Linked DNA regions of Homo sapiens: all the other regions are linked to region 2. Evidence: fine-mapped expression QTL. A gene starts in region 2. Each other region holds a variant in brackets. All regions are shown on one strand. Distances are between the middles of the regions.

Region 1 (5,339 bases), 720 kb after region 2:
AAGTCCAGCATAGGCTAATCACTGAAAGACCAAAGAGAGGGCAGACAAAGGGATATTCCTCCTCCAGACAGTTTTTGGGGCCTTGTTTGTGGTCCTTTTGAATGGGTCTCCTTTTGTGGACCTTTAGAAAATGCATGTTAATTCAGTTCAACTCACATTTATAAAGAACCCTCTGTGTGCCAATTGTTGCATTAAATGCTGAAGGAGAGAGATACAAGGAGAGAAATTGTGCAGATATATATAGAGAAGTCACTGTCAGCAAGGAGCTTGCCAGGAGGAGGGCAGAGAAAGTGTGCAGACAGGGAGAAAGGGCTGAACTCCATGAGACAGGCACAGGTAAGGGCTTGCACTGTCAAAGTCAGATCACCTGGCTCTGTGGTCAGAATAGGCTTTGTGGACGGAGAATGTCAAGAGTGTTTTAAGTGGGAAACAAGGAGATTCCTGGCAGAGGGAACAACTCAGGCAAAAAGCAGAGGCACAGAGTTAGTAAAGGGTTCTCTGTGTTCAGGGAGATTTGCTTTGCTGTAACTAGAGCAGCCTGGGAGTAGAGATTACCTTGAGATACAGGAGACCCATAAGAAGGGATTTACCTCACCTGCTTAGCCTGCCTTTTATTTATTTATTTGTTTATTTTATTTATTTATTTTGAGATGGAGTCTCACTCTTGTCACCCAGGCTGGAATGCAGTGGCACAATCTCAGCTCACTGCAACCTCTGCCTCCCATGTTCAAGCAATTCTCCTGCCTCAGCCTCCCAAGTAGCTTGGATTACGGGCACCCACCACCATGCCTGGCTAATTTTTATATTTTTAGTACAGACAAGGTTTCACCATGTTGGCCAGGCTGGTCTTGAACTCTTGACCTCAGGTGATCCACCCGCCTAGGCCTCCCAAAGTGCTGGGATTACAGGCGTGAGCCACTGCACCCAGCCTTAGTCTGCGTTTTAAACCAGTGCTTCCCAAACTTTAATGTGCCTGTAATCCACAGAGGGATCTTGTTAAACTTTGGATTTTAATTCAGGTCTGGAGTGGGGCCTAAGATTCTGGATTTCTGTCAAGCTCCCAGGTGCCCATGGCCTGCACTTTGTGTAACAAGGTTCTGGAATACTGTTTTTGAGAACTTGTTAATGGACCATCCTCTACATAAACACCTTTGGTCAATGTTGACTCATATCCTCCAGCCTACTGGACATGCAATCTTTCACATATGTCATTTCAGATGACCGCTGCAACCACTGCAGTCTTCTGGAAGACTATCTCCCCTACCCTAACACACACGTACACATTTTCTCATTTCACCTAAATGGTTATCTTTAAAGGCCCAACTCAATTACCGTTTCCTGGAAGAAAACTTCTCTGATCTCCACCCCTCCCTTTTCTCAAGTTTAGATTTACATCTTAATCTCTGTGTTTTATAGAGTTTTATAAGTCTGCTGTAGATAGCACTTACCACAGTCTGACTGGTATAGAAATATACATATGTGTGTGTGTGTATATACATATGTGTGTTTGTGTATATATATATATAACTTTACAATAATCATCTTGTATCATTTTTGCAATAAGGATTTGTATATATAAATTAATAGAAATACTGCAGAAATATATAGAACTCCTTCTCAGGTCTGTACTGGAAGTCGTTGCTTATTCTTGTATTCCCAGTGAGAAAACCCAGAAAAGCAGATTTCTTTAACTGACTCTTTGCATGTATGGAGGCTTTATTCCCCTATCTGTGCTTTCTTATCAGGAATATTACCCTCATTCATTTATGTATTTAATCAGCATCCATTAGTTGATTGCCAGAAATGTGCCGGAATACAAGATGACCAAGATCATCCCTCTCTGAGCCTTCGCTCTGTTGGCTGTAAAGTAGAAATGATAAAAATACTTCCTCATAATGTTGCTGTCAGTAGAAAATTACGTCAAGTGTGTACAGCACTTAACAGGGCTTGGCACATAATAAGCACTCAATAAATGGTAGCTTTAATCATCGAAAGTTGTTTTCATCAAATTTACTTTTACGATTATTGTCCACTCAGTGAGCTAAGCCTTGAAATAGACCACCTGGGATTGTGAGCCCTCCTCGAATTGCTATCGGAGGAACACTGTGGGGACTATGAGAACCACCTCCTGCCTCTTCGCTTTGGTTTTTCTCATTATGGAAATGAGGCCAATTGGTAGGAAAGAATCATTACTCAGCAAGAATACAGTTTATGTCTTCCCAAAGAGGAAGAACCTTGAGATTGAACATAAAGCCCAACTAATATCTTTTTTTATACAGAAATATGGCAGATTCATTTCATTAGATACAGCCCAACTTTTTTTTTCTGCACCAGTCACAGTGGTTGTTCCTGGAGACTCAGAGATGGAGCAAAGTCCTATCTTGTGGAAACTTAGAGTTTAGTGCCCCATAAATATATCCAAATAATTACTACCAAAATGGATAAATTCAATGACAGAATTCTTATCTTAGAGGAGTAAATAATTCTATTTGGGGAAATTGGAGAAGGCTTATGGATACACTGAAAAGGAAAACATACTTCTGCTCCCACAGAGTTTGGGGAAAGGAAATTTTGCAGTTGATCCCAGAAGCCTACTTATTTCACCACTGATGACCCAGATTTAAAAATAATCTGGTAGTCCAAAGCAATTTTTTGCCACTGAATATAAACTTCTTGCATAAAATACCAATTATAACAACTCTGATTACTGCTGCAGTGGTACCATGATCCTTCTAACTTTTCTTTCACAGCAATCAATTGATCTGCTGCTTAATTCATATTTATTTAGATTGCAGCCATACAGATGCTTTTTGGGTGCTGCCAGGAAAATTAATTACCTACATATAGAATATAATGTATGTAGAAATGCTTTGACAACCGTAACGTGCTCTGCAAAGAGTTAGATTATTATCATTATTTCTTTTTAAGTCTCACTACAAATAGATAAATTTTTAACATCGTTTATCTTAAAACCAGTACCATGAAAAAACTGAGTCACAGTCTGTTTTTCTTTTTTTAAATCTCTTCAGTTCTTATCCAGGTCCATTTCAAATAATATGTCATTTCATACCTTCACAAATACCATCTCCAATTTCCAGAAGATACAGAGAGATACATGGCTTATATTTTCAGCCAATTAACCTGTCATAGAAAAAAA[A/C]TTGTTAGGTACCATTGATCATATTGAGAAATACTAAGAAATTAATAAGTATTAAAAGTATTTACCAGCAGCCTCAAAAACATATGCATATGCATATTTATATGTATATGTATGTGTATGTGTGTTAGTATACACTCACCCTTTAACAGTGCTAAAATCCTTTAAAGAATAAAGAATTTGATAGCTCTTTAACTTTTAATTTTTAAGCAAAAGTTTAACACAATAAAAAATGTAGGAAATGCAGACTTGGCCACTTTTAAGTTTTGTGTAATGTATATTTAAACGCACTAACCTCTGCCCTTTTGAAAAGCTATGTATTTGAGTCTTCTTATGTCAGTTCCTAGAAGTCAAGGCAAATTTCCAAGAAAGAAGCTCTAAAAGGTGGGAACAAGGCAAAGATACCAACCTCAGACTATTTTTCTAGGACCTAAGGAGTGCATACAAAAGTCTAGAAACAAAAGTCAGAAACAAATAGGGGCTGGACAGGACTTTGTTCTCTCCTCCAGTTAGCCTATCCCAAGCACAGGGTTTGCATTCAGAATCTATCTAAAGATGAATTTCATACCGCGCACCATGCAGGAAAGAGATGCTAGATGCTCTTCATGCCCAAGCAATTCACACGCTCACTCTCTCACCTCGCCAAATATCACAATATTTACCACCGATTGATGGAAGAACCTCCACAGTCCCTGAGTCTAACTCCCTCACCTTACGGATGAGGAAGCAGGTATACCGACTCTCAGTTTCCACCTCTTCCTTTTACCTCTGCGTCCCACCTCAGTGTCGACGCGCAGTATCTAACCAGAACTCTCTCTTCACTTTCAGGAAATTTGCCCCGCGATGTTCTGTGTGCAAGGAGCCTATTATGCCAGCCCCGGGCCAGGAGGAGACTGTCCGTATTGTGGCTTTGGATCGAGATTTCCATGTTCACTGCTACCGATGCGAGGTCTGGTTGACAGCCCTGCCCTGCCAGTCTGTGGCAGGCGTTGAAAGGCTCGTTCGAGCTAGGTTTACATAGATGTAGCAATTACTAAATCTCAGAACGGCCTTAGTGCCTGTACTCATAGGACTTGGGTTTTAGATTTGACACTAGTATTCCGAGCACATGCTGTTGAATAAGTCACTGTACCTCTCTCAGTCTGCTTGCTCACCGGAAGAAAGGACTCAAGTCCTTAACTCCTCCAAATATGGCTGTGAGAGTGAAATACAAAATTGTATATTAAAGGACATTGTAAATTGTGAAATACTAAATTAGTGAGAAATGGTGTTATTGAACATTTAACTTTGGCTCTGAGGCTTTGGTTAGAACTTCTTGTTCAGAGTCATGGAGATTTATTTATTTGTTAGCATGCACTACTAATTGCTCAGTTTCCTGAACGCCTCTAGAGCTGCAGTATATCTGCATGTTCTTTTCAGTAAAGCCAAACTTCCCGCAGAGTATAACCATTGCTGCTATTGTGTTCTGGATACCCCGTTAACTTAAATTTCATTCTATGTCAAATGAAGACATGAACTCCATTGACCTCCTTGCCACCATGGTAGATAGCAGAGGCGAGGTTCATAGCTGTTGTGGCCTTTGAGAGTTTATACTAAAGTTAGCAAACACACACCTCTTGATGAAGTACTATGTATTTATTTTCCAAAGAAACTTCTATTTTCTCCAAAGACAAAGGCCAGCATTTAACTGTTATATAACACTTTTCAAAATGGACCCTAAGAGGAGCTGTCAGCGGTAGTATATTCCTTTACAGTTATGCAGTTCTTTGCATTTTTTTTTTTGATCCATTATCTTCTTTGATCCTCTTAACAGCTTGGTAAGGTAGAAAAGGCAGAAGTTATTTTCAGAGTGGCAGTCGGCCTGTGTGCATTGAGGCAGACTGTAGCAAAACTGTGGGTGGTGCTCAGGAGGCCTGTCCCCTGGACTAGCAATCTTTGCTCTCCACAATGCTGTCTCCTTTAGAAAGTACAGCAAACCACTACTCCCCACAAACTTTAGGATTTTATTTTCTTACTGCAGTTGAAGTAAATACACCGAACCCACTGGTGGCCCTTCTGCTTGGCAGACATCAGTCTACCTTTGCTCTAGGCCAGAAATGGCCAAAACATTCCATTCCTGTACCTGTGCATGCATTTTGAGAGATCCTTAAACTAATGGTAAAGGGTAAAAAATGCATCGGTGGTT
Region 2 (5,236 bases):
ATGGGAATGAGGCTTTTGGTAGGGTTAGCACTGACGACAACACTGTATGCAGTTCACTAAGCATCCAGATTATGACTTGGGTGGTTGTACTCTTGGGAAGTTCCTCATGAGTCAGAATTATCTTTTGTAGTTAACTTTATATGATGTTCATGCTAACACCATGCTCACCATGCTCACCTGAGCAATTCATAAACATTTCAGGAGGAGAAACACAGTGACTTCCCCAACACACCCATACAACAGTTTCAACATAATTAGTAGCATTTCTGGATCCGGCACAGTACTCTTATAATGTATATGATGGAAGAAATGAACAACTCTAATTACACCTTATTAAATCTTAATCCTCATTAGGACCCTATTATTCCTTATAAGTGAGTTACTGAAGGAAAAAAAAAAAGGAAATGCTGGTCAAGTCCCGTTATATTCCATGAGGATTGAGATAATCCATTTTTACTTCATGTAACACTGGAATTCTTTTCATACTAAACAGTAGTACTCAGAATGTGAGTACGCTGAAATGTTTGAGTGAGTGGATTGTGTTTTGATAGGATCTGACCTTTTCAGAACCCCAGAAAAAACTCTCTCCAAGAGCCCGTATCTCCCATTTCAAACTATGTTAGTTGCAAAGAGATAAATTCTTTATTAGTCTGTGGAATGGGTGGTTATTCTCGACCTTATCTCTCTGTTACTGCCTTCATATATATATATGTATGTGTGTATATATATATGTGTGTGTGTATATATATATGTATATATATGTGTATATATATGTATATATATGTGTATATATGTATATATATGTGTATATATATGTGTTTGTATATATATATATTTTTTTTTTTTGACAACAGTCTTGCTCTGTCCCCCAGGCTGGAGTGCAGTGGCGCAATCTCGGCTCACTAAAACCTTTGCCTCCCGGGTTCAGGCAATTCTCCTGCCTCAGCTTCCGGAATACCTGGGATTACAGGCGCTCGCCGCCACGCCCAGCTAGTTTTTTGTATTTTTGGTAGAGATGGGGTTTTGCCATGTTGGCCAGGCTGGCTCGAGCTCCTGACCTCAGGTGATTTGCCCGCCTCGGCGTCCCAAAGTGCTGGAATTACAGGTGTAAGCCACCGCGCCCAGCCATGTTCATATTTTTGTATGTGTACATTAGATAGTTGAGAGGAACACAGAGGTTAAGTAGTCTTACCCCTGAAATGTCTGAATTCAAACACTTATTAAGCACAAGGAAGGTGCTTAATAAATCCAATAACATGTGTTTTTACATTATTTCCTTAATTCCTGGTCAAAAGAATCCCACTAAAGTCCATCCTCAGAAGAACCACTTTTTGGAGTTTTTATGAATCAGTAGCTCATGGTGTACTCTCAACAGTTATGAATGGAATTAGGTCCTGCTAGAGGTCAGGGCCAGGTATGGAAAGATGAAGGGATTAGTCAGGAGACCTGGATGGGAGGAGGGGAAGACAGGTGCTTGGTCAGTCAGTTGTTTTGTGTTGGGCGAGTAACGTTTCTTAAGTTTTTGTCTGAGGTGTAAAGGGGGGACTACGCTCTGTCCTATCTAACTCACCTGAAGATGCAATAGCCGGGTGAGAGACTGCTTTCATTATGTGCTAACGTGAGGGATTACTTTAGATATTAATAGGAGAGAAGTGCAAGGAAAGGAAGTCTCAGGGTATGGAATGCTTTCCTGGCCATGGCTGCTGCGCGTCATAATCCCCTAACACAGTTAAGTGGTGGTTCTCATCGTCGTTCACCCTTACAGATGTCAGAGGGGAAAGAAAAATCCAACTCAAAACTTCCAATGACAGGCTTGTCTGTATTCAAACCAGTTCATCTCGTTCGCAGACTTTTTTGAAGCTATAAGCACAGAGCAAGCTTTCTGGGCGGGGCTCAGAAGTAAACGTTAAACTCCAGGGATTCATTTATTTGAGCACAGGACAGAGGAAGTTGCCCTGAAGCAACTGATTGTCATTGATATTCAGGGCTCGCTGTCAACCAGGACCTTCCAGGAACTGGCTCTGGGCCAAGAGCAGTAGAAATCACTGGGTGGTCCGCACAGCTCGCGGGCATCTAACCTGCTTCAAGGCTCAGGGCTAAAAGGGAGCCAGGGCCCTTCCTGGAGGCGGGAACCCAAGTGGGAGGCAGAGCGCCTGGGCCCGCTCCTCGATCTGCTGAGTGACGACCCTGTACAAGTCATTTCTCTTCCGAGAGCTTCAGTTTCCTCACGTGCCAAGCGGACGGGTTGGAAGTTGGTCTTTGCCAGCTCTGACACCTTGTAAGTTTTGAGTCTTGCTGGGAATCCAGGGCGGGGCTCACGAGGAAAATCTTGGAAGGGGATTTCATGGCTGGATCTCTTCCACTCAAGCTCAGTGCCCTAATTTGACGCCTTAATAGTAGACGCAGGCTTTTCCATTTTCCAGGAGCCCCCTGACGCGGCCGCTTCCTCCTACGTCTCCTTCCTCTTCCTCTAGCAGGGGCAAAGTCTCCACATCTCCCTCTTTCTCTTCCTCCTTTGCAAGCTCCCTGCATTCCCGCGTCTCCTCCTCTTCCTCCCAGGAAATGCAATGCCCTCAGTGCGCCCACCTTTTGGCAAAGCCACTGCCGGCTGCGGGTTTCCCCTCCCCCGCCAGGCGAGCTCTGCGCGGCGGCTTCGCGGGCACACGCCTTCCCATACCTTACATGGACAAATGCGTGCAGGCAAAGTCAGGAATTCAGGCCCCTGACGTCAGCCTCCAGCGCTCAGGGCACCGCACGGGAGACCAAGGGGAGGGGGTGGGGACGGTGGGGAGGAAGGAGGGGGAAAGGCACCAACCAGCAGCCGCTCCAGCCCTGCCGAAGTTTCACTTTTTGTCTGTGGGTTCGTTCCCGGGTCCCGCGCGAGCTTTCCCGGGATAAGTAGCTTTAGCGATCGGGAGACAGCCGGGCGCTGCAAGGTAAGGGCTGGCTGCACGGCCCGGGGCGCGGGGCGTGGGGCGCTGGGCGCGGGCGGCGCGCTCGAGGAGGCCAGTGTGGGGCGCGGGGCCGGGCCTGTCCGGGGCTGGGGACAATGGGAGGGGGAGTGCCCGGGCACCTCCTCCTCTGCCTCTGCCTCCGCCTCCAGCCGCCGCCGCCGCCGCCGCCGCCGCCACCACCACCGCCGCTGCCCCGGCTGCCTCCTCCCTGAGGTATTGTTGCAAATCCTTCCTTCCCCTCACCCTCCACCCGCGGGCGCCTCGGGAACCCCCAGCCCTCCCCCGGCGCGAGCGCCTCCGGGGTGGCAAGAGCGCAGGGCGCGCGCCCTGCTCTGGCCTGGCCCGCTGTGCGGAAGTGCCGGCCGCGGCCCAATCACGGGGTGCACGCCATGGGGGAGGGGGACCCAGAGTTTTTCCAAAAGCGTCGACCCCAGGCTAGGCGGGGTTGGAGCCTTGCGCGCCCCCTGCCCGGACTTTTCTGGGCGCCCAGGGGGCGGGGCCACGCCCATCCGCTTAGAGCTTTCGCGGAATCACAGTTGTCACAGCGGAAAGGGCCTAGACCCAGTCCTCCAAGTCCTCCCATTTTACAGTTGGGGCAGCTGAGGCCCAGAGAGAAGGAGGGTCGCCCGGAAGTTATTTACTAGAGGCCAGACCATAATTCAAATAGTTGGCTCCGGACTTAAGTTCCCTTTCTCTAAGCATTTCTCTAGCACCCTGTGTGTGGCAGACCCTGTGCTGGGTGTATTGGACGTTGCCCTCAAGGAACTCAGTTGAACCTGGGAGTCAAACCTGGCCTAGGGTAGAAAATGCTAAGTGCTGGAGCAAAGGCGTGGACAAAGTTAAAGGAAGTTCCAGGGAGGGGGTTTGATTTTCTGGTCCCTGGGACGGCCTTTTGGAGAGTCCTGCACTGAATGGGGTTTTTGGAGGTTGAGGAGTTTCCTGAAGCCAGCTAGCGGCTTGGAGGAAGACATCTCTTCGAGGGAACCGTGGGCCAGAGAAGACTAAGTAGTGTGGGAAATGGAGATGAAAGTATAAATATTCTTTAGTTGGAGGCAAGGGGTTGGGGATGGGGGAGGTTGTGATATGAGATGAGCTAATCAGTGGAATTGTGCCTGGGTGCTTGGACAGGGCAGAGTCTTTGGAACCTCGGAGTCGTAGGAGAACTGAAAAATCTCTCTGGCTTCCCTTCCCTTAGAAGGGATCCACTGCTTTCCCTCCCCCAACACAAAACAACTAGCGAGAACTCAGGGTCTTCTCTGGGGCTTTTGCTAGTACCAAACTCACTTAACTGTGTTTCCAGTCCCCTTTCTCTTTCCATTCCTTCCCCTTTTACTAAATCTCTTGCCTTTCCTGTAAAATTCACTCTCACTAAGGTGTTGATGACTTAATGGCTTACCTTTCCCTGCACATGTGCATTTTAAGAAAGCCTAAAGTGAAGAAGGGGAAAGTGTGGCTAGGCACCTTTACAAAGCATCTAGCTCCCTCTCCCATCCTCCCCCTTCCTCAACTCTTATAGATAGAAGAATAGGTAAAGGTCCACGAAGGTGGGTGCTAGACCTAGAGCCTATGGTCAATAATGGTGGACAGTGGGGGGTTAGGACATCCAATATGGTTTTCTCCACTTCGTCACCAGTTTTTCTGCTTGCACAGTTCCTGCCAGCACCAGGGGGCAGTTAAAGGAAAAAGTGTGTGGGCCAGGCACGGTGGCTCACGCCTGTAATCCCAGCACTTTGGGAGGCCAAGGCGGGCGGATTGCCTGAGCTCAGGAGTTAGAAACCAGCCTGGGCAACATGGCAAAACCCTGTCTCTACTAAAAATACAAAAAATTAGCTGGGTGTGGTGGCGGGGAACTGTAGTCCCAGCTACTCGGGAGGCTGAGGCAGGAGAATCGCTTGAACCCGGGAGGCAGAGGTTGCAGTGAGTTGAGATCACACCACTGCACTCTAGCCTGGGCGACAGAGGGAGACTGCCTCTCAAAAAAAACAAAAAACAACAACAACAAACAAAGGAGAGTGTGCATTTTTGCATTTAATTTCTACAATGCAGGCCCCAACCCCAACACCCAAAACTTTATAGTCTAGAATGTAGGCTCCAGAGGGGATTACCTATTCTGAATGGTAGGGGTAAAAGCCTGGGGCCTTAGGGTCTGGCAGTCCCCCCAGAGGCAGGCTCTCTGTAAGCAGCATGGGTCTAGAGTTGGTTTTGAGTGTACGCAGAGGGAGGAGAAGCTGAGCTGATGAGCTGATTGCTGTGGCTGGGACTTGAGTAGGATCTTTCTTAGA
Region 3 (5,339 bases), 30 kb before region 2:
GTTGGAGAATTCAGGAGGAAAGGAAGGAAGATGAGAAAAAAGGAAAGGAGAGAGCAAAAGTGGAAGGGAGGAAAGAAGGAGAAGAAAATTGCTAAACACTGTTTATCCCCTCACCTCATTAAAAAATTCACTACTATAAAGTTACATTCTATTTTCCACCCATAATACTAACTCTGGGCTCAAGCGCACAAATACACACATGAAAATAATTCAGGGAGGAATTAGCATGTAGAATTACCTGGAATAATGTTTAGTGTGTTCGTTTAGCGGTGTGAGTTGCAGCTTATAAAACACCTCTGTTATGCTGCGTGCTTGGAGGATTCTTTGCATCCACAGTCACAGCAGTGCTGCACACTCTCTTGAGGCCAGGCTCACAGAGAAGGTGGCACTGTGGCATAGAGGGACAGATTTGGCCCCCTGTGAGCTCAGCTCCAGCCTCCCTGCATCCCAAAGCAGAGGGTATTTTCCCTAGTGGAAGAGACAGAAGGAACAGGTCCTCAGTGGAAAAGAGGAGATGAAACGTGTCAGCAGTAGGAACATCACACTGAGAGACAAGGGACGGGGCTACAGTCTTGGCCATGCCATCTCTCATTTAGTGATCTTAGTTAATCACTCCTTTTCTCAGGAAAATGAAGGGGTGTGGCCAGATGGGGCATGGCCTGAGGTTCTCTTGTAACTCTATTTGTTTTTTGTTTGTTTGTTTTTTTGAGACAGTCTTGCTCTATTGCCCAGGCTGGAGTGCAGTGGCACGATCTCAGCTCACTGCAACCTCCGCCTCCTGGGTTCAAGCAATTCTCATGCCTCAGCCTCCCACAAGTAGCTGGGATTACAGGCATGTTCCACCACATCTGACTATGTTTTTTATTTTTAGTAGAGATGGGGTTTCACCATGTTGGCCAGGCTGGTCAAGAACTCCTGGCCTCAAGTTATCCTCCCACCTTGGCATCCCAAAGTTCTGGGATTACAGGTGCGAGCCACTGTGCCTGGCCTCTAACTCTAATTTTTAATGGTGTTTATAATTTAAGTCACAGATTTAACTGTCTGTTTCCCTGTCTATAATGTGGCCAGGTTGGGCCAAATGACCTCTAAGTGGTCTTTGAGTTGGCTCTAAGCTCTAGAAATCTGTAATTCTACGACTAAATCAAGGCTCACTAAACACATGTAAAAGGAGAAAGGCTGCGGTTCCCCAAAGCATACAGGATATCAGGTTGCTCCCAATGTGCTAGCTAAGGCTAAAGTATGAGGTTCTCCAGTGCAGGTCACAGGGCAAACAGGTGAAGCTCTCAGTCACTTGGGTGCAGAGTGGCAGCTTCCCACACCTGAGGCCATTCTATCCCACTACTCCTGCCTTCAGCCCTGCTGTTTCAGCAGCCCTAATCATCAGAAGGTTGCATGGGCCCAGGTTGCACAACTCAGGGTCCCTTCTAAGACCTCTGAAGTCACCCACCCCAAATTCTTCCCCATCCATTCCTAGTACATAGTTTTCCAAAATCTCCCTATAGGTAGCCTGTTTCATCTTTCGGGGACTTTGATGATTAAGAAATATTTTGGGTCAAGGTGTGGGCCAAGGTATGTCTCCCTGTAACTTTTACCATTGGTCAAGTTCTGTCCTCTGAGGCCTCCTGTGACAAGTCTGCCCTCTCTTCCCTGTGGAAACCCACCAGGCCTTCGGTGACAACAGGCAAGGCCTTATGAAGTCTTCTTCTGGGTAAGGAACTCTGTTTTTTCTGATGGCATGGTTTTCGGCTATCTTACTCTCCTGGCCTGTAAATTCTCCACATTGCCAAACACGACATGAGACTTGGGGGATAAAAGATGTAGGTTTGAGTAGTGTGTCCACCAATGGGCTCTATTGCATAACACAGCTAAATTGAAGTTTTTATTTAGGGCGGATAAAATGTTGAATATAAACTTATAAATAATGAAGTGCTGCATAAAGGATTGTTATTACTACTACAGCTACTCTATATTGCTACTAAAAATAACAATTACCCCTACTAAATCAAGAACACAATGCAGCTGTCTTCTGAAACTACAGAATAGGAAAGAGAGCTGTCTTTTGCTTCGTCATTATATTCCTATGCCTTCAGCCTAACACCACTGTCGCTGTTTTGGTAAGCTGTATCTCAGAGTTGGCTCAGCCAGAGCTTACAGGCAACCAAATATTGAAGCTGCAGTTGTATTACACATGCTGCTGTCGGCCTAGGTTTTCCCAGTTCTTGTTATTGTAAAGTTAAGGGATTTACATTTGTCTCTGACATTTCATCATGTTTGTTTCACCCTGTTCAGATACTTTTGGACTATGATTCAGCCATGAAAAACAGTGCTTTCCAATTTTGGCTTCATGTCAGAATCATCTTGGAAAATTTTCTTAGCATAAATATTCCTCCTGAACCCTAGTCTCAAGATTTTAATTAATTTATTGTAGGGTGGGACTCAGGAAGCCATACCTAAAACAAGCATTTTAGGTGGTTCTTATCAGTGAAAGCATGAGGTTCCATCAGCCTGCATTTGGAAATCCAGCGTATACCACAGCCTACTCTGCTCAGTGTCACCTGAGCACTGGATAAACATGGCTTTTCTTTTAGGAAATCTTCTAAAGGGTAAGAAAATATCTACATCAAAGGTCAGGTGAAGACTGTCACAATGTTTGCATTCTGTTAATGTTGTACTTTCACAAGTCATTTCCT[T/C]CCTCATTCTCTAAAACAACGTAGATACAGCAACCTACAGATGAGCAGGACATAGACACAATGCTCCCATATGCCACTTTCTTTCCCACCAGGCAAGGTCGTGCCTTCTCATATCAGAAGTGTGCAATCCGGCCAAAAAGAGCATCCAGACTTAGAGTCCAGAGAAATTGACTGAGTAGGCATGTAAGTTGAAACCAATTTACCATTCCCTATTTTACCAACATTTCATCATTTCATTTTACTGGGAAGCCCCAGAGAGGTGCATTTACTTGCCAAGTTCACACAGTTTCGTCTAAAGTGATACGGGAAGATTCTTTCTGGACTTGAAGGAGCCCTATGTCTTCTTTACTGACTTTGATGATTCATTCATTCAGCACACACATACAGAGAATTCTCTGTGTACTAGGGAAGCATTATGTGTGGGATGGAGTAGAAAGAAATGAGACATAGTCCTTTTTCCTTTATCTCATTCTTGAAGTCCAGTAAGACAAGACCTATACAAAAATAACTGCCCAAGGTGGGCAAGAATGAATGCCATAAAAGGTCAAGAAAAGGAAGAATCACATTTTCTTCCTTCTAAGGAAAAGAGTTCTTTTGATCTTTCAGTTAAAAAAAAACAAAACACTAATTTCTCATTAAAAAATATGCTGCATTAAATCCATAATTATGTCCATGTGATCCCTTCAATGTCATCTCCTACATGGTACAGACCCTGCCATTTTTTAAATTATTTCAATAACACTTAGCATAATACAATGCACACCAAGGACTCACCTCTACCTTCAGTCTAAATCTTTTTATTCTTAAGTCCTGGGCATTAGCACAATTTTGTTACTAAAGACCTTTGAAAATGTCTTAGCTCTGTGACTACTGAATTTCTTCATATGGATCTACTTTAAAAGGCTTTCCCCACATTACTAAGGCTGTGGTCTAGTTCTTATATACCACTTGAACAAGAGCCTTCTTGTTACATAAATCCAGAGATCATTCCTCTAAGCCCCTGACTCATTGTTCTCACAGCTAGGCATTTCTGAAAACAAGATGCCATTTTGTTTCTAGGGTCAGAGCTCAAATCTTTATTGCCTCTGGTGAGATGATATTCTGTTCGCTTTCCTCCATTTAAGTATATAACATACCCTAAAGTATGTGCTAATTAATACATCTGTTTGTCTTACAAAGCAGTCGAAAAGCATGTATTTAAACTGTGATTCACATTTTCCCTTTCAGCCCGTCTGCAGATTTTTGTGCATGAGGAGCCTGATTACATTACTATTTTAAAAAGCCAATTAAAAAGTTCACTAAGTGACACTGGTGTGTTTTAGTGCAGGTAATAGAAGCATAAAGCTCTATGTGGCATTAACAAGCTGAAAGATACAACTGGATTTGATGGCAGAATTCATTTCTTCATCTTTCCAAAACAGTCTTCTGGAAAACAACTATGTATCTGTCCCAGAGGCAGGCCATGGGCACGTAGTCTGCACAGGCACTTTTAGGTTACAAAACAGTGAGCCATCTGTGGATGCACTCAGAGGGTTCACTGGCAAAGTCTTTATGGCTACTCCTTTAGAAAAAGAAGGGCTGGGTTGGGCGTGGTGGCTCATGCCTGTAATCCCAGCATGTTGGGAGGCTGAGGTGGACAGATCACAAGGTCAGGAGATCGAGACCATCCTGGCCAACATGGTGAAATCCCGTCTCTACTAAAATACAAAAAATTATCCAGGTGTGGCGGTGTGCGCCTGTAGTCCCAGCTCCTCAGGAGCTGAGGCAGGGGAATCACTTGAACCCAGGAGGCAGAAATTGCAGTGAGCTGAGATTGTGCCACTGCACTCCAGCCTGGTGACAGAGCAAGACTCCTGACCTGTACATTTGCCCAGTCTGAAACACATGACCTGAGGTTGGCCAATCCTGTACTTCCTCCTAGGACTTTGATTCTTTAGAAAATGAGGTGCAGATGGAGGAAACATTTGCAGTTAAAGCAGATCAGAGCACTAACACATGGGCCAGATTGTTCCTGATACATGACATTGACTATAGATCCTGTCTCCTACCCCAGCTCATGCTTTTAGTCTCCTAAGTCCGTTCTAAGATCATCACTTCACTATACAGATGCTCCTTGACTTACAATGGGTTTACATCCTGATAAACCCATCATAAGTTGAAAATGTCCTATGTCAAAAATGCATTTAATACATCAAACCCACCGAACATCTCAGGATAGTCTAGCCTACCTTAAGCACACTGATTACACTGACATCAGCATACAGTTTGGCAAAATCATCTGGCAACACTGCACACCATAAAGTATGAGTTTTTTTAGCTTCGTGATTGGGTGGCTGACTGGGAGCTGGGGCTGGTTGCCTCTGCTCAGCATCGCAAGTGTATCCTAACACTTTCTACTGAATGTATATCACTTTTGTATCATTTTAAGTCAAAAAATTGTAAGTCAAGCCATAATTAAGTCCCTTTTCACATGAGATAACCACAGTCTGTTCCTGTTGCTTGTGGCCAACAATCCTGATTGGTTCTAAAAAAAAGATGATTCCTCTATTAGAAAGCTTGGCTCATGCCTGTAATCCCAGCACTTTGGGAGGCAGAGGTGGGCAGATCACATGAGGTCAGGAGTTTGAGACCAGCCTGGCCAACATGGTA

The links. PIP is the estimated chance that this variant, and not a neighbour inherited with it, causes the effect. A credible set is the group of variants that fine-mapping cannot tell apart.
Region 1: its variant is the best candidate, but not a certain one, in a credible set for the expression of LPP in whole blood (INTERVAL, PIP 0.51).
Region 3: its variant is the best candidate, but not a certain one, in a credible set for the expression of LPP in whole blood (INTERVAL, PIP 0.58).

Annotation. Positions count from the first base shown.
Region 1 is chr3:188,868,661-188,873,999 of GRCh38, forward strand. It overlaps LPP (LIM domain containing preferred translocation partner in lipoma), which reads left to right. Exons shown (of 12, transcript NM_001375462.1): 11 at 3,983-4,103. Among named protein-coding and RNA genes, the nearest start is that of TPRG1-AS1, 76 kb to the right of the region's middle. The variant A/C (reference allele first, on the strand shown) is at 3,158.
Region 2 is chr3:188,151,086-188,156,321 of GRCh38, forward strand. LPP (LIM domain containing preferred translocation partner in lipoma) reads left to right here and starts at 3,072. Exons shown (of 12, transcript NM_001375462.1): 1 at 3,072-3,167. LPP-AS2 (LPP antisense RNA 2) reads right to left here and starts at 3,003. Exons shown (of 1, transcript NR_036497.1): 1 at 121-3,003. RefSeq lists enhancers at 1,607-2,507, 4,307-5,205 and a silencer at 2,940-3,279.
Region 3 is chr3:188,120,691-188,126,029 of GRCh38, forward strand. No RefSeq gene overlaps it. Among named protein-coding and RNA genes, the nearest start is that of LPP-AS2, 31 kb to the right of the region's middle. The variant T/C (reference allele first, on the strand shown) is at 2,691.